6 separate regions of the Homo sapiens genome follow, and all the other regions are linked to region 5. Evidence: fine-mapped expression QTL. A gene starts in region 5. Each other region holds a variant in brackets. All regions are shown on one strand. Distances are from middle to middle. Region 1 overlaps PHACTR2 (phosphatase and actin regulator 2). Region 2 overlaps PHACTR2 (phosphatase and actin regulator 2). Region 3 has its middle 6.5 kb from the start of LTV1. Region 4 has its middle 28 kb from the start of PHACTR2-AS1. Region 5 holds the start of PHACTR2 (phosphatase and actin regulator 2). Region 6 overlaps PHACTR2 (phosphatase and actin regulator 2).

Region 1 (4,091 bases), 93 kb after region 5:
GGCTATGTATAAAAATACCTACCTCTCTTCCCATATGGCAGGGTACTAATTATTTGGTAGGCTTCCATTCATGGGCAGCTTCATCAGTAACACATATGTGTGATACAATATAAGGTGAAAACTAATAAGCCCATTTGGAGGCCATATCCAAAAGGCTACTTTGTACAGTTCATTTTCACAAACATGTATAGAATGCACTATATTGTCCAGTGTGCCCAGGAACCCGAGGGGGAAAAATGAGGGGTAAGTCATGAGTTGATTAATACAAATTTGGAATATATTTAACATCAGATATAATTTATAACATAACTCATTAAGTGTAAAATATAATAGTATAATAAATGTAAAATTTAATAGGTAGACCGAGTCTTCAGTCTGGATTCTAGACAAGACTTGCTACCTTGGTTAGGCAACTCACTCATGGTCTTCTTTGATTCCATGAACTATAAGTTATCTGCCCTCCTTATACAATAGAATACTTGTAAATTGTAGATGTATGCTGGACTCTTTGAAAACCATGAAACAAAATACAAATAGTAAGATTAGAATAATAATCAATATGATAATTAATTAGTGAACAATGACACCAACAAATAAAGGACTCATCTCTCAAATTTGTTCTGTTATTCAGAACATATTATTAATTGGCATGTATTTTAAACATTCTGTGATCACCCATAATGGCAGCCAATTCAAACAAGAATGGCTTCCAGTGGCAATCAACTAAAAACCCAGACTGTGGAAAATTTTTCCTATAAAAATAGATCTTCTCTTATTTAAGATGAGATTTCACACTGTGGAAAACAGTATGGTGGTTCTTCAAAAAATTAAACATAGAATTACCATGTGATCCAGCAATTCTACTTCCATGTATATAGCCAAAATAATTGAAAGCAGGCACTTGAATTTGTACACCAGTGCTCAAAGCAGTATTATTCACAATAGCCAAAAGGTGAAAACATACAGATGTGTATTGATTGGTGAATGGATAAACAAAATGTGTTATATACATAGAGTGGAATATCATTCAGCCTTAAAAAGGAAGCAGATTCTCACACATGCTACGACATGAATGAAGGAACCTTGAAGACATTATGCTAAGTGAAGTATGTTACATACAAAAAGACAAACATTGTATAATTTCTCTTAGAGAAGGTGCTTAGAATAGTCAAATTATAGAGACAAAAAGTAGAATGGTAGTTGCCAATGGCTGGGAGATAATGGTTATGGGGAGTTGTTTAATGGGTAGAGTTTCAATTTGGGAAGACGAAAAAGTTCTGAAGATGGTTGGTGGTGGTAGTTACACGGTAATGTGAATGTGTCTAATGCCAGTGAACTGTACACTTAAAACTGGTTAAAATGGCAAATTTTATGTTATGTATATTTTACACAATAAAAATGAGATTTCCTATTTCCCTGTTTGAGAACAAGAATATAGTCTGTTGGGTTTTTCTGATAAGTGAGAAACAAAATTTTGACAGTGATCACTCAGGTTTATAACTATGAAGTAGGGTTTTAAATACCTCATATTCTGATAAAGTTTATCTGTGTTTATTGCTGGAAGAACTTTTTACCAGAAAGCAATTTGGGGGATCTTTGTGTCTTAAAATGAAGATTACATTATTTTTGATGTGATGTTTTTATGTAAATTACTATGTATTTTTTAGTCTAGTCTTTGAAAATTGGCAATCTTTGTACATTAATAGTAACTCTTTAAATCATAGACTTTTACTAGGCTAAATAATAGAAAATTATTGC[T/A]TCCTTGCATATCACCTTTTTTCTTTCTTTCTTTCTTTTTTTTTTTTTTTTGAGATGGAGTCTCGCTCTGTCACCCAGGCTAGAGTCATATTACCTTTTTTCTAAAAAGTGTATTTAACTTGCACATTGTCTGTTATGTTACAAGAGGCAGTTTTAAAAATGAAAACACACATAGGATAAATGAGTTTTTACTATTTACATATTGGGATAAAAGCAGGATTAATTCATATATGTACTTTACATATATATATATGTATATATATATATGTATATATATATATATGTATATATATATATATGTGTGTATATATATATATATATATATATATATATATATATATATATGCTTTTTTTTATTTTTTTGAGACAGGGTCTCACTCTGTTACCCAGGCTGGAGTACAGTGGTGCTAGCATGGCTCACTGCAGTCTCGATTTCCCAGGCTCAAGCAATCCTTCCCAGGCTCAAGCTGGGACTACAGGCAAGCGCCACCATGCCCAGCTAATTTTTTATTATTTTATTTTATTTTATTTTATTTATGTATTTATTTAATTTATTTATTTTTGAGACGGAGTTTTGCTCTTGTTGCCCAGGCTGGAGTGCAATGGCGCGATCTTGGCTCACTGCAACCTCCACCTCCCGGGTTCAAGCGATTCTCCTGCCTCAGCCTCCCGAGTAGTTGGGACTACAGGTGCCGGCCACCACTGCTGGCTAATATTTTGTATTTTTAGTGGAGACAAGGTCCCCTATGTTGCCCAGGCTGGTCTTGAACTCCTAGGCTCAAGTGATTCTCCCACTTCAGCCTTCCAAAGTGCTGGAGTTACAGGTGTGAGCCACCGAACCCAGCCATATATTAATGAAAGAAGATGTACTTTTCTACGTCATTACCTTCTGGGTGCTGTGATGCAAAACAATGAGTCTCACTTTTCCAGGAACTTGTGGGATTGAGAAGGCAGAGAAGCAATGGGTGGTCAAGATGTAGTATGCTAAGCACTCTAGCGGGATCGTCTTCAGGTCCCCATGGGACAGACGTGGGGGCAAGGAATTAAACTGAAGGTCCATGAAAGCTTCCTGAAGGAGCTGAGGCTGTAGCTGACACTTGAAGGAAAAAATAATTTGCAAAATGTAGTTTTACCCTATTTGTTTGCTAAATGTATCAGATACCAAGCGTTTGCATTTTACAGATGAAAAATGTAAAACCTTGAGAATTAAGGTTTCATTTCAGTGACTTTAGCCTGGCCTATGTCAAGTGTCTGCTTTCCTCAGCCTGAAGGAAGCCCATGAAACTAGAGCTCTTTTTCTTAGTGTCAGTGCCGCCAAGGGTTGCTCTGAGCTTCACATCACTCCCATGCTTTTCTGCCTTTAACAGTTTCACAACCAAAGAGGAGCTGGGGAAGACAGTGCCTCAGCTACTGACTCCTGGGCTGATGGGCGAATCTTCAGAATCCTTTAGTGCCTCAGAAGATGAAGGCCACAGGGAATACCAAGCCAATGACTCTGACTCGGACGGGCCTATCTTGTACACCGATGATGAGGACGAAGACGAAGATGAGGATGGCAGTGGAGAAAGTAAGACTGTTTTCAAGAGGCAGGGAGGAGCGTGGGTGATAAGCAGAAGCAGCTGCAGTTTATAAAGAATAAAAGCCTCATTAGGAACCAGACATCTGATGTTTTCTTTCCCCTCATCCTCCTTTCTCAAATTAGAAATGTGTATATCCTAAAGTTTAGCTTTTGATGGGAGGCCTTTCCAGAAGATGATGTCACATGGCTGGATCTGGCCTTTGTCGATGAGCTAGATGAGCTAGATGTGCTAGATGTGCATATTAGTATTTGTGCTGAGAATCAAAGCTTTCTAATAACAGAGACCTTTCTCACTATGACCAAAGAGAGCCCTTCCACTCTGGGCCTGTTGTTGAAGAAAGAAAGTCAGTGCAGATTCATAGGCTTACTCATTGGAGGTGTTTGAAATTTTCACTCGCTTTTGTACTGGGGTTTATAGAAAGGGGAAGGAGGAATGAGTCAAGAATGCCAAATACCTCATTAGCATTAAGAGGCTGGGCACGGTGGCTCATGTCTAATTTTGGGAGGCTAACGTGGGTGAATCCCTTGAGGTCAGGAGTTCGAGACTAGCCTAGCCAACATGGCGAAGCCCTATCTTTACTAAAAATACAAAATCCAGATGGGCATGCTAGCGCACGCCTGTAATTCCAGCTGCTCGGGAGGCTGAGGCAGGAGAATCGCTTGAACCCAGGAGGCAGAAGTTGCACTGAGCTGAGATCGCGCCACTGCACTCCAGCCTGGGAGACAGAGCGAGACTCCATCTCAAAAAATAATA
Region 2 (4,091 bases), 140 kb after region 5:
TATAGATATATGAGAGGGGATTTATTAGGGCAATTGGCTCACATGATAATGGATGCTGAGAAGTCCCAGAACAGGCTGTCGGCAACCTGGAGACCCTGAGATGCTGGTAGCCTGGCTCAGTCCAAGGCTGGAGGCCTGAGAGCTCGAGGCAGTGGGGAGTACTGGTGTAAGTTCTGGAGTACAAAGGGTGGGGAGCCTGGAGTTGTTGTTCAAGGACAAGAGAGGAAGAGCATGTATCCCAGCTCCAGTAGATAGATTGACATAGTCTCCTTTTCTCTGTTTTTGTCCTCTCTGGCTCTCTGGCAGATTGGCTGTGGCCACCGACACTGAGGGAAGATCTTCCCTACCTAGTCCACTCAGACTCACAAGCCAGTCCCTGAAAACACCCTCACAGACTGTATTAGGCCATTCTTGACTGCTATAAAGAAATACCTGAGACTAGGTAATTTATAAGAAAACAGGTTTAATTGGCTCACAGTTCTGCAGGCTGTACAGGAAGCATAGCAGCATCTGCTTCTGGGGAGGCCTCAGAAAGCCTCCAATCACGGCAGAAAGCGAAGGGGGAGCAGGCACATCACATGGCAAGAATGGGAGAAAGAGTGGAGGAGAAGTGCCCCACACTTTTAAACCAGACCTCGTGAGAAGTCACTCACCATCACAAAGACAGTACCAAGCCATAGGGATCCACCCCCAGGACCCAAACACCTCCCAGCCCCACCTCCAGCATTGGGGATTATATTCCAACATGAGATTTGGCAGGGACAAATATCCAAACTGTATCATTTTGACCCTGGCTGCTCCCAAATCTCATGTCCTTCTCACATTTCAAAATGCTTTCCCAAAAGTCCCCCAAAGTCTTAATTCATTCCAGCATTAACTCAAAAGTTCAAAATCTCATCTGAAAAAAGGCAAATCCTTTCCACCTATGATCCTGTAAAATAAAAAACAAGTAAGTTATTTCCAAGATATGGTGGAGATCTATACTGGGTAAACATTCCCGTTCCCAAAGGGAGAAATCAGACAAAAGAAGGTGGCTACAGGCCCCATGCAAGTTCAAAACCCAACAAGGCAGTTGTTAAATCATAAAGCTCCAAAATAATCTCCTCTGACTCCATGTCCCATGTCCTGGGTACTCTGGTGTAAGTGGGCAGCTCTACCCCTGTGGATTTGCAAGGTGCAGCCCCCAGGCTGATCTCACAGGCTGGCGTTGAATGTCTGTGGCTTTTCCAGGCACAGGGTGCAAGCTGCCAGTGGATCTACCATTCTGGGGTCTGGAGGACAGTGACTTCCTTTTCACAGTTCCACTAGGCAATGCCCCAGCAGAGACCCTTTGTGGAATCCCCAACTCCTCATTTCCCTTCCACACTGCCCTAGTAGAGGTTCTCTGTGGGGGCTGTGCCCTTCCAGTAGGCTTCTGCCTGGACACCCAGGCTTTTCCATGTATCCCCTGAAATCTAGGTGGAGTGTCTGAAGCTTCCATCACTTTTGCATTCTGTGCATCTGCAGGCTTAACATCATGTAGAAGCTGTCAAGGCTTTCAGCTTGCACCCTCTGAAGCAGAAGCCTGAGCTGTATCTGGGGCCCTTTGCGCCAAGGCTGGAGCCAAAGTGGCTGGGATGCAGGGAACAATGTCCTGAGGCTGCACGAGGCAGCAGGGCCCTTGACCTGGCCCTCGAAAAAGTGAAAGAGTGATGTTGCCTCTGTGTATCAAATGCAGGCATGGCGGTCCTCACATCTGCCCAAGGTTACAGTCAGGGATAGACTAAGAACAGAACTCAAAGTGGACACATTCCTGCTTTAGTAATAAATTGCCTACCAGTTTTGTAAAGCTTGGTATATCTTATTTTTCTTTTGACTTTTGTCAAACACAGAAGTAATATAAGTCCCTCGTATCCAACTAGCAGCTCCTCAGTTATCAATTCGTGGCCCATCTCATTTCACCTGCTCTTATTTTTTAGTTTTTCATTTTGTAATGCTTGTATTCAACACAGTGACGTTTAGTAAGTACTATCACGTGCC[G/A]GAGATTGTATTCAATGAGTATGTAAAAATGGATAAGAAAGTTTCCTTCCTCAGCTTCTCATGATCCAATAGCAAAGGCACATGTATCCAAAGATTATATAATGTAAGCAATAACTGGCATAAGCCAAAGGTTATGGGAACACAGGAAAGAGAGCAATTAGTGCTTCCCTGAGCAGTGGAGAAAAGAGTTTGGAGAACTCACAGAGTGAGACTGCATAAAGCGCAGATGGTAAGAGAGATAAAGGTAGAAGAAAGAGTAGGCCAGGTGTGGTGGATCAAACCTGTAATCGCAGCACGCTGGGAGGCCGAGGACAGATTGCTTGAGTGCAGGAGTTTGAGAACAGCCTGAGCAACATAGCAAAACCCCATTTCTACTAAAAATACAAATATTAGCTGGGCATGGTGGTGCATGCTTGTAGTTTCAGCTACTTGGATGCTGAGGTGGGAGAATCACCTGAGCCCAGGAGGTTGAAGCTGCAGTGAGCTGAGATCGCACCACTGCACTCCAGCCTGGGCAATAGGAGTGAAACCCTGTCCCCCTCTGGAGCTCCCCCCAACCCACCCTGCAAAAAGTAGGTAGAGGAAAGGGCATTAGCGCAAAAGCCTTTTTGGGGCAAGTGATTGAAATGGAGAGTATTTGGAAGCAGTGATAGAGATATAGCTAGAACCATGAGTTGGGCCACTTTCTGAAAAGCCTTACTTGCTACTCCAGGAACTTTAAATTTTATTTTGTTGGCTTTCTTATTTTAATTTTGTTAAGGGACAGGGTCTTACTATGTGCCCAGACTTGTCTTGAACTCCTGGACTCAAGGCTGTCCTCCCACCTCAACCTCCCAAGCAGCTGGGATTACAGGTGTATGCTACCATGCCCAGCTTAAATTTTATTTTGTAGGTAATGGGGAACAATACGATCCTTTTGAGAAAGAACTGGGTTGGGCGCAGTGGCTCGTACCTGTAATCACAGCACTGTGGAAGGCAAAGGTGGGCAAATCGCTTGAGACCAGGAGTTCAAGACCAGCCTAGGTAACATAGCGAGACCCCCATATCTAATTAAAAATAAAAAAAGATTTTAAAAACCCCAAGAACTGAAATGATGGAACCAGTATTTTTAAGGATAGTGTGAGCAACAGTGAGGAGCATAGATTTGATGGAGAGAGCCTGGGACAGGGAAACCAATTAGGAGACTGGCTGACCAGAGCAGATGAGCATTCGACTGTAGAAGACAGAGTGAAATGCTAGGCAGAGTTGCATAAATGTGGAATTGCAGAAGTAGGCTGAAGAGCTTGATCACTTAAGGCTTTATGGAGAAGATAACTTTTGACCTTGATCTTGAAAATGAAAACATAGATAGGAAATGAAGGGAAGGAATTGCAGTATTAGTGAACAGCATGTTCAAAAGCACCGGGCTACAAAAATGCAAGGAATGTTCAGGAACTCACAAGGAGGGAAAGGAAGCCAGCTGGCTGGCTAACAAGCATACCGTAAAAGTAGTGCCAGCAAAAGATGGAACTTTAATGATTCCAAGACAGGCAGTTGAGGCAGGACTTGGTGACTAATAGGAAATGCTGGATGAGGGAGAGAAATGAATTGCTAATCTGAGGTTTCTAGACCAAAAATATTTTTAAAGATAGAATATTAAATAAGACAAAGTGCAAAGGCAGGTTAACAAGGAAAGCTTTGTATAGTTGTGGACATGCTTAGTATATACCTGTGGAACATCTGGGGGGAAGCGCCCTGTGGGCTTTTGGAAATTCAAGTGTAGAAAGTAGATTTGGAGTCGTCAGCAGGAGATGATGAGAGGCTGAAGCTAATGAAAAAGTGTCTATTTGTTACTGTGCTTTTATAATACAGACGAGGTGTACCAAAATCCCTTTGTGAAACATCTCCCTCTGCTTGATAAAGGTTAGAGCACGATGCTCAAGAATAGTGATGTTTTCTGTCTTGGTTGCTGTGTAACTTGAATACTATAACCAGCATCTTTTATATAAGGTTTCCTTATATGCTTATATGTAAACATATATATAAGGAAAGCGTTTATATATGCTTTCCTTAATAATATTTGTAACAGTATT
Region 3 (4,091 bases), 160 kb after region 5:
TCCTGGCCACAGTGGATTGGATTGAAGGAATGGATTAGATCGGAGGAAGCAATATTGGAAGCATGGTGGCCATTACTACTGCCATAATCTTGTTGGGAGGTGATGGTGGCCCCAAACAAGGTATTAACTATTGGAATGAAGAGACATAAACAGACTCAAAGGACAGTTATGAAGTGGAAATGATTGTTCCATATGGTAAATGGAGGAGATGGAAAAGTTAAGATTATACCTATCATGTGACTGGCTTGAGCGGATGGTGGTGATGCCACTTGCTGAAATAGAAAACAGCAGCGCTGAGGCTGATGTGAGGCTAGATTGGAGGGCAGGGAAGAGCAAGAGAGCATAGGAAGTACAGAAAGGGGAGGCATTCAAATTTGGAAATGCAATTCAATTTGTTTGAATTGCCTTCTGTTAGGACGTCCACATGTGGATAGATGTACAGTAGTCAGTTGGATATATGAGTCTGAAAGTCAGGAAAAAAGTCTGGGCTACAGATAGGAAGCTGAGAATCAGCAGCACGTGTAATGGAAGCTGTGGAAGTGGATAAACCTCTTCAACAGACAATGTAGCTTAAGACCATGAAGAAATTACTACAATAAAAATCTAATAAACTATTCTCTCATTGCCGGGTTTTGTCTCCAAGGCTGCAAAATCAAATCATTTATTCATCATCTAAGTGCTTAGGATGTTTGTCTTAATTTTAATGAGTTTTATGGGATAGCTTAACTTTAAATAAAATGGAATACTACATTATGTAGGGGGGTAAGTTGTAAAGCAAAAATTATATTTAAAAATGCCTTATATTGCTTGCACGTTGGTTCAATGTGCAAGCAAACAGATTCTCATGAAGTGAACCTGATTTGAAGCAAAGCTCGTGCCCCCTGACGCATCCTAGATACTGAAGGTCCTGTTTCAGGAAACGATCGTCCTGAAGTACAATGCAGTGAGGTGAATAACTACATTCAGCTGAGAAAACGACAGTAGCTCACGTTCATCAAATGCTTACTAGAAGCCAAGCACAGGTCCAAGTACTTCATACCCATCCTCTCATTTAATCCAACAACAACTCTGGAAGGTACGTATTAATATCATTCCCATTTTACATTCAGGTAAGTAAACTGAGGTCCATTTAGCCCGAGTTGCATAATACGAATGAAACAAATGCCAGAGACTACTTCCAGCTAGTATACAATGCATACTACTGTCATCAGTTAATATTGTAGGGGAAAATTTGTGCTTCGTGAGAAATGATGCATTGTAGAGACAAGCACACCTTTTGATTCTGATTTTATGAGGGTTCTGTGCCTCTCCTTATCTTTGAGCTATTTTACAACATTGTAAATTTCAGAAAGCTGACAGTCATGCAAAACAATTCTTGTCTCTAAACATCTACATAAATTCTGTCCAGTAGAGATTTCAACTCACTTCCCTCCCTCATCGTGGAAGAAGTAAGTTGTGTCTCCATTTGCACATTCTTCACAATATTCCTGCTCTATAAATGTTTCTGTTCTTTGGATTGTCCTTTGAACTAATTGTAACATCTTACTGGTTCCTTCATTAATCATGTGTAAAATAAGATCTTTAACATGTGCTCACTTTATATATGAGAGCCATGACATTAAATCCTGCTATAAGGATTTAATGGGTAAATGTATGTAAAGCACTTTGAACAGTGCGATTATTATTGAGCCTTCAATATGCTAGGCCCTGAAGAAGTCAAGTCAGCAAGACAAAGATCCTTGCTTTTGAGTAGGTGACTGAAGTCTAGTTCTAGAGACAGATGAAAATAAGAATTTACAACTTAGCATAACTGAGCAGGGTAGTGTGATCACAGGATACAGTGAGAACATTCGGGATGAGCCCCAGTTATGAAGAGCATTATCGTTCAACAATATTTATTGAACCAAATTATATTAGTGCCTCTTTCCTTTTATTTTTAAGTATTGCTACTTTATATATACATATAAAACCAAATGTAATACTTTAAGTCTTCACTCTAATCACATAAACATTGAAGAAATATCTCATATAGACACTGAAAGTTCCCTGCAATCCCATCCCAGCTCTTTGTGAATAATCGTTGTTGACAATTTGGTGCATAGTCTCCCAGATTTTTTTTACACTTGCACTATGATATTTCTTTTTTTTTTTTTTTTTTGAGACAGAGTCTTGCTCTGCTGCCCAGGCTGGAGCACGTTGGCGCAGTCTCGGCTCACTGCAAGCTCCGCCTCCCAGGTTCACACCATTCTTCTGCCTCAGCCTCCCAAGTAGCTGGGATTACAGGCGCCCGCCACCACGCCTGGCTAATTTTTTTGTGTTTTCAGTAGAGACGGGGTTTCACCATGTTAGCCAGGATGGTCTCGATCTCCTGACCTCGTGATCCACCCGCCTCGGCCTCCCAAAGTGCTGGGATTACAGGCGTGAGCCACCGTGCCTGGCTGCACTATGATATTTCTTTGTAACATATTTTTCTTTTTTCATACATTTTTAACAAAAAGAAGCCAGGCACAGTGA[T/C]GTGCTTATAGTCCCAGCTACTTGGGAGGCTGAGGCAAGAGGATCAATTGAGGCCAGGAGCTTGAAACCAGCTTGGGCAACATAGCAAGACCCCATCTCAAAAACACAAAACTTGATCTAAATTAAACCAGCATCACAGTAGCTCGTTGTATGAATGGTTGGTTGGTTTGTTTGTTTGTTTTAATTAATCCTTTACTAACGAAATTTTTCTTTTTTTAAGATATAGAGTCTTGCTATGTTGCCTAGGCTGGACTCAAACTCCTGGGCACCACAACGGGCTCACTAATGAAATTTTAATTGTTTTATTTTTACCAGCAGCGTTACATTGAACATCCTGGTACATCCATTTTGCTGCACTTTTCCTTTTTATAAACTAAGTACCGGCTGGGTGCGGTGGCTCACACCTGTAATCACAGCACTTTGGGAAGCTGAGTTGGGGAGATCACTTGAGATCAGGAGTCTGAGACCAGCCTGGCCAATATGGTGACATCCCATCTTTACTAAAAATACAAAAATTAGCCAGGTGTGGTGGTGGACACTTGTAGTCCCAGCTACTTGAGGGACTGAGGCACAAAAATCGCTTGAGCCAGGGAGGCGGAGGTTGCAGTGAGCCGAGATCATGTAACTGCACTCCAGCCTGGGCAACAGAGCAAGATTCCATCTCAAAACACAAAAATAAAATAAGTACCTCCATAAGCTTTATTAGGATTTTCAAACATGTAATTTATAACTCCTAGAAGTTACTGCTTCAGGTTCTAATTAGTTTTCTCGGCACTTCTGTGTACATTGGCTTCCTGGTGCTTGGGACTCCTTGAGTGATGTTGACGGAAGAGGGAGAACCAGTGAATGTGATATGAATGCGAATAAAACCATAATTTCAATGGCTTAGTTCCATATAAAAAATTTTTAAAAACTTATTCAAAGCCTAGACTAAGCCAGAAATTCTGTTTAATCACTTTAACATGGACACCAGTAATTAGAGCATACTAAAAGAGTAGAAGTATTGCTTGAATTTATTATCATTACTATAATATTTCAATTATTTTTGCTTTCACTGGAGGCGAATAACATTTTTCTACATTAAGACAGCACTCGGAACAGTCTCTGACACATATAAGCTCATGTTATATGTTGGAGTATTTTGTAACAAGGTGGTTTTCTGAAACGGGGTGTACAGTACTGTAATGGTAGGGTGTGACTCCGAAGCTACAACTGAGTTCACATTCTGGCTTCCTCACTTATGGACTTTGTACCCTGGGGCAAAAGTCACTTAACTTTCTGTTCTGTAATCTCTGCTGAGTAGAAAAGGGTAATTGCATGTCTACTTAAATCTGCTATAAGGATTTAATGAGTAAATGTAGGTAAAATACTTGGAACAGTGCAATTATTATTGAGCCTTTACTATGCTAGGCCCTAAAGACGTTCAAGTCAGCAAGACAAGGATCCTTGCTTTTGAGTAGGTGACTGCAGTCTGGTTCTAGAGATAGATGAAAATAAGAATTCACAATTCAGCATAACTGAGTAGAGTAGTGTGTACAGGATACAGTGAGAACATTCGGAATGATCCCCAGTTTTGA
Region 4 (4,091 bases), 140 kb before region 5:
AAGAATGAGCAGGTCCTTCACTGACACACAGAGTATTTCTCCAGCATGCCCCACAGCCTCTGCAGCCTCTGTAAGCCATGCAGGATGGATCTGAGAATCAGCAAGATGACTGTGCTGGGATCTCTGAATTATCTCAGAGGCACAATAAGAGGGTTACACGCCTTGTAAAAACATTCCTTGGCCTAACACTATAGTAGCCCAATTTCCAGCCCTTCTCCAGAAGCTCTGGGCACACACAGAGGCAGCACCTAGAGCAAGGTCATGTGTGGCTTGCCAAAACAGCCCCGGACCAGCATCTGTGGCCTCATCTCAGAATCTCAGGCCCCACCCTAGGCCTGCTTAACTGAATCTGCATTTTAATAAGATCCCCAGGTTGTTCTTAGTCACCTTGCAGTTTGAAAAGTGCTGCTCTCCCACACTGGTTTTCAAACTTGGCTACACGTAGGAATTGCTTGGGGAGTTAACAACGAAGCAACCTGTGGCTGGGTCGCACACCTAGGGATTCTGATTTCATTGGCATCAGGTGCATCCTGGCCATTAGATGACGCTAATGAGTAGCGAAGTTTGAGAACTGCTGTCCTGTGCCATATTATGTCACCCTGGCTTGCTGCCGTATGTCTTGTGATACCGTGATACAAGTGTAAGTTTGAAGAATTTGTTTTAGTACCTTCTCACATCCCTATTGCTACATCCTCTCTTCTACTACTGCAGTCTCCCAAGCAGCCTTCCTTGCTCCTATTTTTGATTCCAGCTAGTTGTCAGATGTTCTTCCTAAGGGATAATTTCTAATCATGAGTTAACTCCCTGCTGTGGGTCCTTAGAAGAGTGTTGAGGGGAAAAGGAAATCACCTTTTGCAGTGACAGTGACCTGAAATGGAGAAGAGGAAGGGGAAGAAAGAGTGCTTGCCAAGAGTTGTCAGAGAACAGCCTCCCTCCAGAACGACAGACCATCCTTGCTACCTGCAATCATTACCCCAGCCTCCCCCACAGCTCCACCTCCATCCTTCTTTCCAGGAAAGAATAATAAAAACTTGGAACTCAGCCTCTAAAATCTTGCCCACTGCTGCAAACAGTCAGTCTAATACTAAATATATATTTTTAAAGACCTGTTCTGTGCTAGCACTGTGTTGATAAATACCGTGAGGGTACCCCAAGAGAATCGGCTTCCCCTGACTATGCTAGATTATTACTAGATTTTTGTCAAGACAAGCGTCTCAGACTTCAAGGGATTTTATTTAATTTGTGGCTTGAGGAATTTTTCACATAAGAATGCAAGTGCTTTATCAGAAAAAAAAAACCCAAGCCAGTTTTATATTTCAAAATCTATACAAAAAAGTTAAGAAAACAAAATATTTTCAAATAAGCAATTTTTAAAGATAGAATTGAAGTAACAGTGGAATTTATGAATAAACTCTTTTATTATGTTTATAAAAACGTGGATTCATTTTGCCATATGGTTTTTGAACTCACACTTCTGGAATTCAACAAAAGTTCTGAATTTATTTTTCTTTTTTTGAGATGGAGTCTTGCTGTGTTGTCCAAGCTGGAGTACAATGGCTGTTCGCCAGTACAACCATAGTGCACTGCAGCCTCAAACCCTGAGGCTCAAGGGATCCTGCTGCCTCAGCCTCCTGAGTAGCTGGTGTTATAGGCGCATGCCACTGCTCCCAGCCTTGGATTTTTAAAATCCAGTATTTCTTTGTAAATAAAGTGATGTTTAACTCAATTTTTAAAGTAAAATCTTGAAACAAGGTTCTCATAGTATATGGTCATGTATTCTCTTAAGTTTTAGACAGATCCTGTTCGGTATTAAGGAGCTTTGATAACTTTTTAGTGGTTTCTGATGTGCTGTTCTGATAAGCACAGTGTTTAGTAAGTAAAGAACCTGAAGACACACAGCCAGGGGCATAGACCATGTAAAGATTCAGCAAGTACCGACTGTTGGCCTACTGGGTGCCAGGTGCTGTTCTGGACCTGTGTGGGCTATAGGGAGGACCAAAAGATGTTTTTATTTTCATGTGATGATGCTTAGTCTTGCACATTGCACATTGGGCTGCATAGATCAGAGAACCATTCAAGCCACCTCCAAAAAAAGCAGTATAGGTGTGTGGACCACTTCATTAGCTTAATGTGCAAGTACAATCTCATCTTTTTATTACTGTGATTCATCTCTTCAGTATCCCTATGCCCTGGTATATATAGGCATAGGGGTAACAGCAAATCCAGGATCTTTTTCTCAAATCTTTAATTCCTGGTGTGTTCAGTGCTGAGTGGAAGTGAGAAATCTCGCATACCTCAATGTACTATCAGTTCATATGCACTGCTTCCTGGCCACTTCCATGAGATACTGCTGTCCAAGACCAGTTCTGCTGTTGGGTCACCTGTGCTGTTGGGGGAAGCTTGTGCTTGCTTATCCCTTGCTGGTGCTTCTACTATGTTTCTTACTGACCTCCAAGGTTGTAACTCTTTGAGTTGATGCTTTGTGCTCC[G/A]AAAGGGTGTCTGGGTCCCAAGAGGCTTCTGAGCCCCAGCCACGAGCTAAGCTGGAGGTGCCCTAGGCCAGGAACAATGAACACCTGCTCACTTTACATTTGTGTAACTCAGAGTGGGTTTTTTTCCAAACAAAGACCATCTGGTTCTAAGTTTACTTTCTGTCTCTCCCTGGTCAGGGAATAGCAAGGCCACCCTGCCCAGGCCAGCTCGGACAGTACAAGAGGGTGCTGGATGGAGCAGGTGCTGGTGGGCTCAGGTCCAGCCTGCGCTTTGCCCAGGTCAAGCTGTGTACCTGGTGTGGACATGTGTGCCTTCCTTCTCCCCCAGGGAGAGCACCCTTTTCTTTGCACAAAAGCCATGGGCTTCTCATCTACCCAGGAGCCTGACCGCCGGTCAGGCTTCATTCCAGAAGGGGCATCTCCTATCTGATTCTTACCAAGTTACCATAGCAGCTGATGACAGTCCTGTATCAGAGCTTGGCACATTTGAAAAATTGGCTTCACCTGTTAAGTCAGGAGGTCCTTATTAGGTCAGATTGCACCTGACCTGGGGCTGACACCAGAGAGTTGTCAGGAATTGAGGCAACCAATTCCTCTTTCTCTAGCCCTTTCCTAGGCTGGCATGGTTTCAGCAGGCTTGAGCTTCTGTTTGTCTCTCTGTTGACCAGCTTTCTTATTCTCTAATCAAAACAGATTATCTCTCCTTCATAGGTGTTTCCTCATCCATCTGCTTAAAATGGCACATCAGGGGTCCTACCTACCTGACAGCAATCTTCCTCTGTTTCCTTTTAGCTCTTGCCTTGTGTTTACCTGGGGAAAATTTCTTCATATTTCATAGTTCAAATTCTCTAGAAAAGACCTATTGTGTGAAGCCACCTTTATACAGCAAGACAGAGATCATATGCCCCATAGGTGCCTCTGGATTTGTTGCCTTTGATCAGATACTCACTGGAGCCGAAACCAGTTGTGGAGCATGAAGTCACAGTGCCAACATGGCCATGTAGAAGGGACTGAGCCTGGCCAGTTTCCATTCGTCCATTCATTCAATTAGTCTTTATTGATTACTGCTATGTGCCAGGTACTGTTCCAGGCACTGGGCATACAAAGGTGAGCAGATGTGATTCTGTGATTCTGGAGTTAGACTGAAAGCAGAGAGGATACTCAGAAAGGGTGTGGCAGGCCAGACACAGCAGTGTCTCTGGTGATCTAAGCTATAGGCCTTGCATCATGCTCAGTAAATAACATGATGATGATGATGACTGTTCTTGTTTTCAGAGGATGCATGAAGAGCTAATTTACTTAAACTAGTTAAGCTCTAGTTTGTGTCAGTACCTCAGTGGCAGCTCTGAGACAGATATTAAAGCCGTGGATTTATTCTGGCCCCTACGTACTGATGAAGATGCTGTAGGCAAGGGCATATCTTGATTTTTCATTTCTTCTTTCAATCAACAAATGGCTAGTGAGCTAACACAAAGGTTGCAAAGACATCCCTCAGGAACTCACAGTTTAGTGGGGAAAGACAGGCCAATAAGCCAAAGACCACAGTGCAATAAAGTATAAGCTATGATTAGTGCCCTGTCCTGGGCCTGGGGGAGAACCTAG
Region 5 (4,091 bases):
AAAGTTTAACTTTTATCAGTATTTAAAAATTATTACAGTTACATATTTTGAATGTGCAAAAGGTACTGTATATTTCCTCTGATCAGTGACCTCCCTTTATCAGAAAGACTGTCAAAAGGAAGAGTGAAACATTCTCCCTCTTAACTTACCTTTAACCACTTTTGTTTGTTTGTTTTTTTCTTACGGCAACTCAAAGCAAAGAGCTGGAGGAGCCAGCCATTATAATTGCTTACTCTCATCGCTTAGCGCCCCAGGTGGGATGTGTTTCCAAAACACATTTTTGTATTTATAAGGAAATGTAGTTAGGATTAATTTTATTGTCCTAATTAGAACTCACATTTTGGTTAAATCCTCAATTTCATTAAAAAAAAAAAAATCAGTGTTTCTTAAGAGTGAATTAGGCAAAGGGAAGAAGACAATGGATCACACTTTTTTAGGGAAAAGATCTTCCTCACAGTGGTGGGTGGGCTATTTGGGTGTGAAAAAACATAGGGCAACTTAATTAACCATGACAAAACAGACAAGTAAGTGCCTTTCAAAAAAATCAAACAAGGCTCTGCACGATCTTAATAATAAAAATTTTAGAAAAAAATGATTTTCATGTTAGTTCAGAGTTGATTGTCTAGGATAAATTAAAAAATGAAAGCTGTGGTAAATGACCTAAATATATTGCACTTTCTGATATTTTTTACATTTTAATGAAATATATGCCTTCAGCAAAGTGCACACATCATTACAGACATCTCAATGAATTTTCATAAAATGAACACATCCAGTAACCACCATCCAATCTAATGCACCATATACAGATGTTCCATATACTGTATATATATATACACACATTATATATATATAGCATGAAGATTACTTATACTAATTAATCATTAACTGTAAATATGAAGAATATTTATTTGTATTCATATTTTTAAGAAGATTGAGATTTAACAGGATATTATAGAAGGGTTTAATTCACCTTTCAAGTTTGTTATAGTTTTTTTCCCCTTTTGTGTATTTTAATCACTTTATTTCACAGTAATTCTTTTGAAATAAAGGAGAGGTCAGCACTCCAGAGTTTTAGGTGGGAGACAGCAAAAAGTATATTTTGTTGATCTCACACGTAGACCTACCATTTAGATTTGTTGTCAAGCCTGATTGAGGCCATTAGTGCCGTTTTTAAAAAATTATATTTGTTAAAAGGAAGATAATTTTTAAAACGAGAAAAAAATGGGCACAAGACATGAGAGTGCCACAATACTGCAAATAGAATGTAAGGAAGGAAATAACTTTTAAGAAACAAATTTTGTTAAATTAAGTACCGTGACTAAATACTTTAATTCCTTTTCTTGTAGCCCGTAAGGATCATTTGACTTTGAACCTTTTAAGTCAAAGAGGAGTAGTCTGAAAGCCTGAACTCCCTACCACCCTGAGGGGGTGCGGGTGCGGCGGGGCCGGCTGGGGGCTTCCCCCACCCCCTGCTCCTGCGCCCTCCCCCCGCTTCCCCCTCCTCCCCTCCCTATCGCCCTCACCCCCCTTCTTCCCCCGTGACCCCTGACCCCAGCTAATCTGCATAGAGGAATGACAGGCATCCGCTGGGCAGGATCCGCCGCGCCGGCTGCGGCCGGCCGGGCTGGGAGACCCGCGCGGGGTAGAAGGTGAGGGGACCCGGCGGGCCGCTCGGCACAGGCCGGGACATGAACGCCTGGAAGTCTGGCTGGGAGCGGACCCATGATCGAAGGACCAAAGGAGCCGCTTGATCGCTGGACCTGGCCCTGCGACCCCAGTCATGGGCCAGACCTCGGTGTCCACGCTGTCCCCGCAGCCCGGCAGCGGTGAGTCCGGGGCGCACGCGATGCGCTCCCGCCGCGCGGGCGCAGGGCTGGCGGCGGGGCCCCGGGGCAGGCAGGGTTAGTCGTCTGGTCGGGTTCCGCTCGGACCCGCCAAGTCCCTCGGAGAAACCCCAGAGGTAGCGCTCGCCAAACTCTTTGTCGTGAAAGAGGAATGCCTTTTGGGATCCAGCCGATTTTACCTTAAAGGCACAGGCTCCATTTTTCTGTGCGCGATGCCTCGCTGTGGTTTTTTATCCAAATTATTTCGGAGCCAGAAACTTACGGGAAACGCCATTTGCGTATTACAGTGTTTTTAAAAACGCGAAACTTAGAGAGCAAGAGAAACATGCCAACAGGTTTTTCTGTATTTACGCTTGGCTTCCGAACAGACTAGGACTGAATGCTTTCAAGCTTGTCAACTGATTTATGGTTTGTTATTCGGAGTAGAAGCGCTGATCGCCTTATCCTGGCAGACGCTGAATACTTAATAACTAGCCCCGAAATGCGTAATTGTTTCAAATGAGACTTGTTTTGTTTATAGTAGATACAGCAGCTATAACATTTAGGGAAACATATCTCATGAACTTAGTTCTCCAGGACTAAAGTTAGTTTTATGGAGACGTGTGTAACGTGTCTGAGTTCTAATGCTCTGTTTTAAAAGTTTCTTTTTTCCATTTTCTTAAACAAAAAGAGGGAAGGAAGGTACGTCTGGCATTTCCCCGACAGTGTAGGGATAAAAAAAAAAAAAACTGTTTGGTGGTGTTACTTGTGATTGGATAAGGAAATAAATTTAAAAGGTACTATTTTGATATTTTTCCATCAACGATTAAAAATAAATAATACTCGAAGGGACCGTTTATGTTACTCATTGAGATATTTGATACACTTTTTAAATTGTGCAAACATCAACAGGATCTTGCTGAAAGGAAATGACAGGGTACAGAGGAAGGTTTTTTAATCTGCCTCAGGATGTCTAGCTAGATAGCATTCTGTCATTCCAACCCCCCACCCCACTTTATACCCAGTGGGTTTCTTTAGGTAGCACAGCTTCACTCCCTGAGATACCACAAGCTTTGCTGAGGTTTCTGTTAATACCACAGAAGACCCTTCTGCAAAGAAGAGACATCAGAATCAGAATATACCTTCTTTACCATTAATGACATGGCTACAGCTCTGAAATCAAAGACCTCATGTTGACAGCTTTTTGAGAGATATTTGCGGGGAGGGGTTGAGTAGGATTTTAAATTTAGTAAACTATTTTGTGCAAATAAGACTTGGTTTCCTTTGTCTTACCTTAAAGTGGTGTGAGACTTCTTTTCATTTCAAGGAAGGGTTATATTTTTACATTTGTGCACCGGCGAAGATAGAATTAAATCTGTACTCCAATACAAGAGTATACAGAAAGTATTGTCCTGAATTTAGTGATTTTATCACAAAATATTACTCGAGTGAATATTAGAAAAGCAAATTTTGCCTTAATAAAAATCAAGGAATATTATATAAATGATGTCTAAGAAGCAAATAAAATCCTAAAGTGAGACTCCCTACGTCTTAGTACAGCAAAAAAACCCGGATTGCTATAATTCCAAATAAAATGACTGATTATAATGAGAAACTGTAATCTACTTAAGTAAAAAGTGTTTTAAACAAAAATTTATGCTTGATCATGAAAGATAATTCAGAGAAATATCTCACGGAACGGTGTTATACTTAAATTGCAGGTCCTCAGTTTTGCGGATTAAAAGTTTGTATGAATTGAAATGACCAATCCATACATCATAAATACAGGGTTTTTTATTTTTCAGTTAAGGAATGACAGTGGTTATGACTTAAGTTGTGGTATTGTAAAAGAACAGTTTTCTCGTGGTATCCAGTGTCTCTAAATCCGTTAGAGCTACCCTGTTTCCCTGAAGGTTTGCCATCAGATTCCAAATGAAAACCAAAAAAAAAAAAATTTAAATTAAATAACGTTTGCTGAGTTTTATATTCATGTCTGTATTTTTCTGAGTCTGAGACTGTCAAACTCTCTACTATTCCAGGTATTTTGTTCACTCCTTGTTAACTGTTTAACTCTGGCTTTACAGATGGCGTGAAGATCCTTGTTCTGTTTGATCTTAGCCATTGACTAGTTGTTTAAGTCTGGAGCAGCTGCTTAGGATTACAGTATTAAAGATGATTCTCATCTTAAATGCTTAGTGGGCGAAAATCTGTTTAAGTCAAAGGAATCAATAGCACAGAGTTTAATTATTCATACTTATCGCTCAA
Region 6 (4,091 bases), 69 kb after region 5:
TTCATTGCAATGCAAACCCCCTCTGAGCCCATGAAAAAGTGTCCAGTGAATGTGCTCTGCAAACATGCAGGCACTATATAAACAAGAGGCAAATATTTTAAAAGGTGAAGAATGAGATACTTGTACTGCTGTGAGAGCGGTGGTTGGAATGTTGTGCCCCAGCAACATACTTTCCGTGCTCGGTCGCCTGCAGTTTGTTCTCATTGGCCCTGTACAGAGGTATCCGCATTGTGTGTTAAATACGCTCTCAGCGAAAGACCAAACAAATAGCCAACGGCATTTTCCTATCAGAGCCTGTTTATAGGAGGTAGAGCAAAAGAACAAAGCTGTTGGTTTTGATTCTTGGCAGGAAGCCAAGGCTGCTGCTTCAAAGCTCCAGAGTTTACAAGGAAGAAAGAGGGGGAATTTTTAGTTTACAAGGAAGAAAGGGGGAATTTTTAGCTGAGACTAAGTTAGAATTTAAGCAAAACTCAAAACTAAAACTAAAGAATCCTCCGGGATCCATAATGGAAAGGCAGAATAAGAAACCTGGTATGTTTCAGGCTATCGGATGATTTTTTAGTGCAAGAACGAACGTTTTAAAAGGTGCCCGAGCAGAGATTACAGACAGCCTCGATTAATGACACAGGATCACTCAGCATTTGAGCTGGATGAATTGTCCTTAGTGATCCTTGAATTGTGTCCCTTATTTTACAGATAATGGATTAGAGGCCCAGGAACTCAAAATGACTGCCCAGGGTCACTCAACAAGTTGTAGGAATTCAAGGACTAGAATCCAGGACTCCTGGCAGCCATTTTGTGTTTTGGGCAATTTTAAAGAAGCAGCAAACCAGTAAAAGTTTTGTTTCTTATGAGCAAAGGGCCGGTTAGGAAGACAGCCACCGTGATTGAATGCTGAATTGGCAGTGCATTTGGTTTGCGAGAATGTGGCCCGATCCCTAGGCCAGCGGCACTTGCTCTTGCAGTTGCCACCTTCATCCTTAAGTTTAGGGCAGAACAGCCGTGAATCTCTGGGCCTGTTCCCAGGAATGGAGGCCAAGACAACTGTTGGAGGAGGTCTACAGAGTCCCGCCACCCCTCAGAGCCCAGTCAAGCATGAATGGGCTTTTACAATCCGTAGGAGGCTGCAGTGGTCAAGGTCCTTCTAAAGCACCTGCAAAATCCCAGCAGTGTCCCACCTGTCACTGTGGGTGTTCTTTGGCTTCCTGCCGTTGATAAGAGTTCTCTCCTTTTTGACAAGAGGCCGAACAAATTGAAACTGTATTTAAATAACAACACTCTTTTTACATAATAGAACACCCAGTTTAAAAAAAAAAAAAAGACTCTTTGCCCGGTTAACTTTTTTCATTGAAATTACTAACCTTTAAGTGAGCTGTTGTTACTTGCTTCTGGAAGATACAGGAAGAATGGGGTCAGTGAGGAATCTAAAGGAAGGGAGGGAAGCCTTCTGTGTATGTCTCCTTTTTAACCCAAAGCTGTTCGTTGTCATTCTTTTGACCATTTATTCATTCATTCACTCATTTTCCTGTTTGTTTCTATTCTGATTCTATCCAAAAAAAGTTTGACAAAATGTGCAGTAAAGAGCTTATATATTGTACATAAAATATAAGTCAAGTCAGGTTTTAGAGAAGGAGGAAACAGAGATTCCATCCACGAATTGTCATATGAAATCTGTGTCAAATATCCAGTTTTACTCTGATCTTTCTAGCAACCAGGATTTAAAAAGGAATACACAATTTCTATTATCAGAAAGGAAAAAAAAATCCAGGTTCTTCAAGAGACTAAG[C/T]GTTGCTATTCTGTGGCACATGCAATTAGCAAACACTTAAGGAAGACTTTCATGCACTTACTACAAAGCTGGCTGCCCAGGGCGCATCCTCCCACCCTGTCTCCTATCAGTGTCCTTGCTTGAGGCCCTGGAGCCCCTGAGCAAACATGTTCTTAGTGTTATCACAAATGTCTTCTTAGTGTTATCACCTGCTCCCTTTGGATGTGTCAGAACCTGGTTTGGGGTAATGGCTTTAGTTTAGTTGAAACGATGTTGTCTAGAGCAGTTCCAGGATTTGCAGATAATGAGCCCAGGAGTAGGAATCGGGGAACGTCAGAAATCTCGTGCTACTGCAGCTGCATGTTGTCTACCAGTGTAGCTTTCCTGCTCTTCAAAGTGCCCTAGACTCCTTATCTGGCCCTTCGCTGCTGTATCAAAGTGCATTTTTGAACAGAAGGTCTGGAGGAAATAGAGTTCTGCAGAACACGCTTTGGGAAATGTTGACTCAGGATTAATAGATGACATGACCACATGTTAATTTTACGCACCTTCTTGGCCCCTGAAAGTGAGGAATGGACTTTGCAGTTGCATGGACATATAGAGCACAGGATTTAATACTATACACACTCAAGGGGAACACAATTGAGATCCTGCTCCGGAGCTCCCAAGCCCCATTCCAAAGTTCTACCAGGCATTTACATTTGTTCCAGAAGAAGGAAGAATCAATGTTAAGATCCCCATGGCTTTACATGTCTGTGAAAACTGATTATTATTATTTTTTTTTTTCTGAGATGGAGTTTCGCTCTTGTCGCCCAGGCTGGAGTGCAATGGCACGATCTTGGCTCACTGCAACTTCAGCCTCCTGGGTTCAGGCGATTTTCCTGCCTCAGCCTCCCAAATAGCTGGGGTTACAGGTGCCCACCACCATGACCAGCTAATTTTTGTATTTTTCGGAGATGGGGTTTTGCCATGTTGGCCAGGCTGGTCTCAAACTCCTGACCTCAGGTGATCCACCCACCTCGGCCCCCGCCAAAGTGCTAGGATTACAGGCATGAGCCACCGTTCCTGGCTGAAAGCTGATTATTCTTAACTGCCTTCTCCATCCTCCTAAGACCTGGGGATTGTCAGCTAATATATAAGAACTCTCTAGAATTAGTGAGAACGCAGGGGAAAGAGTTATAGAAATATGATGTGTTGGGCTTTTGTAATAGATGGAGTGAGAGAGAAAACACTAGAAAATAGTTCATTTTCCTGGAATGCAAATGGGTTACCCAGAATATTTACTGATGTTTATGTGTTTTTTTCTTTAATGTAAGCATACATATCTTCTTCATACACTGCATATCCATAGAATTATATGTTTTAGAATGCAACATTTCTAGCTTCAGCGTGAGAAGCAGGCTTTATGCTCTCTAGTTGCTATGTAATAATATGCCTGGACGCCAGGCCAAAGGTGGCCATTTGAAAGACCAGGGATGGCGGTTGGACTTCAGATCATGGGCTGCAGCCATTTGCTCTTGTCATAGCTGTGTTGATTCCACTCAGATCATGTGTTTTTTTTAAGCAACTAAGAAAACGAGTTTGAGCCCTCATGTGAGGAGAATAAATGTGCTCAATTCTACTTGGAATGTTTTTCATAATTATCTTAAGGAATGACTTGATTCTTACTTGTGCTTGTTCTTTTTAAAAGTATTAGAAAGGAAGATATCCACACGACAAAGTAGAGAGGAGCTGATAAGAAGGGGAGTGCTTAAGGAATTGCCTGATCAAGGTGAGGAAATTAATCATACATTTTAAATATTTTGGTCCTTCATTCTTTGGTTTTTCTTTTGTTTTCTTTTGAAATTTAAAGGGATCATGGTCTTTGTAAGGTAAAGCGGTGATTACTGCATTCCAAGCGCCGTGCTTCCATTGGTAATGCCTTTGTGAGCTGCAGAGAATCTGAAATATTATAGAATTCTAGTGACTTTCCTGGTGAATCCATCACCATATGTCATTCTAAACCTAAAACTCTGCAAAGGTACATCCGAGGGCAATACAGATGAGATACAAATGCTTACGGCTCCTTCTCTTCTCTATTCTTGAGCTTCAGTCTTTCTATTCACATGAAACTCATGTGTTTGAGTAAATGCAAAGTTTTAGCTTGGTTCATGCTATTTTGTTTCTTAAGACTACCAATAAAAGAGAAGAGAGAAGGCACACATACCTCTTGTCCTTTGCACTCTATAATAACACTGAAATGTACAATCAATAAAGCATGAATAGGCAAACTAAACTAACCTGCTTTCTGCTTTCTCTCATGTAATTTTGCAGTACTGTTCTCTTT

What was found. PIP is the estimated chance that this variant, and not a neighbour inherited with it, causes the effect.
Region 1: its variant is the best candidate, but not a certain one, in a credible set for the expression of PHACTR2 in thyroid (GTEx, PIP 0.84).
Region 2: its variant is the best candidate, but not a certain one, in a credible set for the expression of PHACTR2 in esophagus muscle (GTEx, PIP 0.76).
Region 3: its variant is the best candidate, but not a certain one, in a credible set for the expression of PHACTR2 in whole blood (TOPMed, PIP 0.54).
Region 4: its variant is the best candidate, but not a certain one, in a credible set for the expression of PHACTR2 in T cells (TOPMed, PIP 0.80).
Region 6: its variant is the best candidate, but not a certain one, in a credible set for the expression of PHACTR2 in testis (GTEx, PIP 0.65).

What each region holds. Positions count from the first base shown.
Region 1 is chr6:143,769,133-143,773,223 of GRCh38, forward strand. PHACTR2 (phosphatase and actin regulator 2) reads left to right here. Exons shown (of 13, transcript NM_001100164.2): 7 at 3,126-3,325. Among named protein-coding and RNA genes, the nearest start is that of LTV1, 72 kb to the right of the region's middle. The variant T/A (reference allele first, on the strand shown) is at 1,759.
Region 2 is chr6:143,819,434-143,823,524 of GRCh38, forward strand. The region is part of intron 12 of PHACTR2 (phosphatase and actin regulator 2); the gene reads left to right. Among named protein-coding and RNA genes, the nearest start is that of LTV1, 22 kb to the right of the region's middle. The variant G/A (reference allele first, on the strand shown) is at 2,020.
Region 3 is chr6:143,834,820-143,838,910 of GRCh38, forward strand. No RefSeq gene overlaps it. Among named protein-coding and RNA genes, the nearest start is that of LTV1, 6.5 kb to the right of the region's middle. The variant T/C (reference allele first, on the strand shown) is at 2,515.
Region 4 is chr6:143,539,418-143,543,508 of GRCh38, forward strand. It overlaps a transcript of PHACTR2 not described here. Among named protein-coding and RNA genes, the nearest start is that of PHACTR2-AS1, 28 kb to the right of the region's middle. The variant G/A (reference allele first, on the strand shown) is at 2,490.
Region 5 is chr6:143,676,381-143,680,471 of GRCh38, forward strand. It overlaps PHACTR2 (phosphatase and actin regulator 2), which reads left to right and starts at 1,585. Exons shown (of 13, transcript NM_001100164.2): 1 at 1,585-1,829. The coding sequence starts at 1,784. RefSeq lists an enhancer at 929-1,777 and a silencer at 1,527-1,826.
Region 6 is chr6:143,745,530-143,749,620 of GRCh38, forward strand. It overlaps PHACTR2 (phosphatase and actin regulator 2), which reads left to right. Exons shown (of 13, transcript NM_001100164.2): 3 at 3,456-3,536. Among named protein-coding and RNA genes, the nearest start is that of PHACTR2, 70 kb to the left of the region's middle. RefSeq lists enhancers at 512-1,182, 1,183-1,852, 1,853-2,522. The variant C/T (reference allele first, on the strand shown) is at 1,787.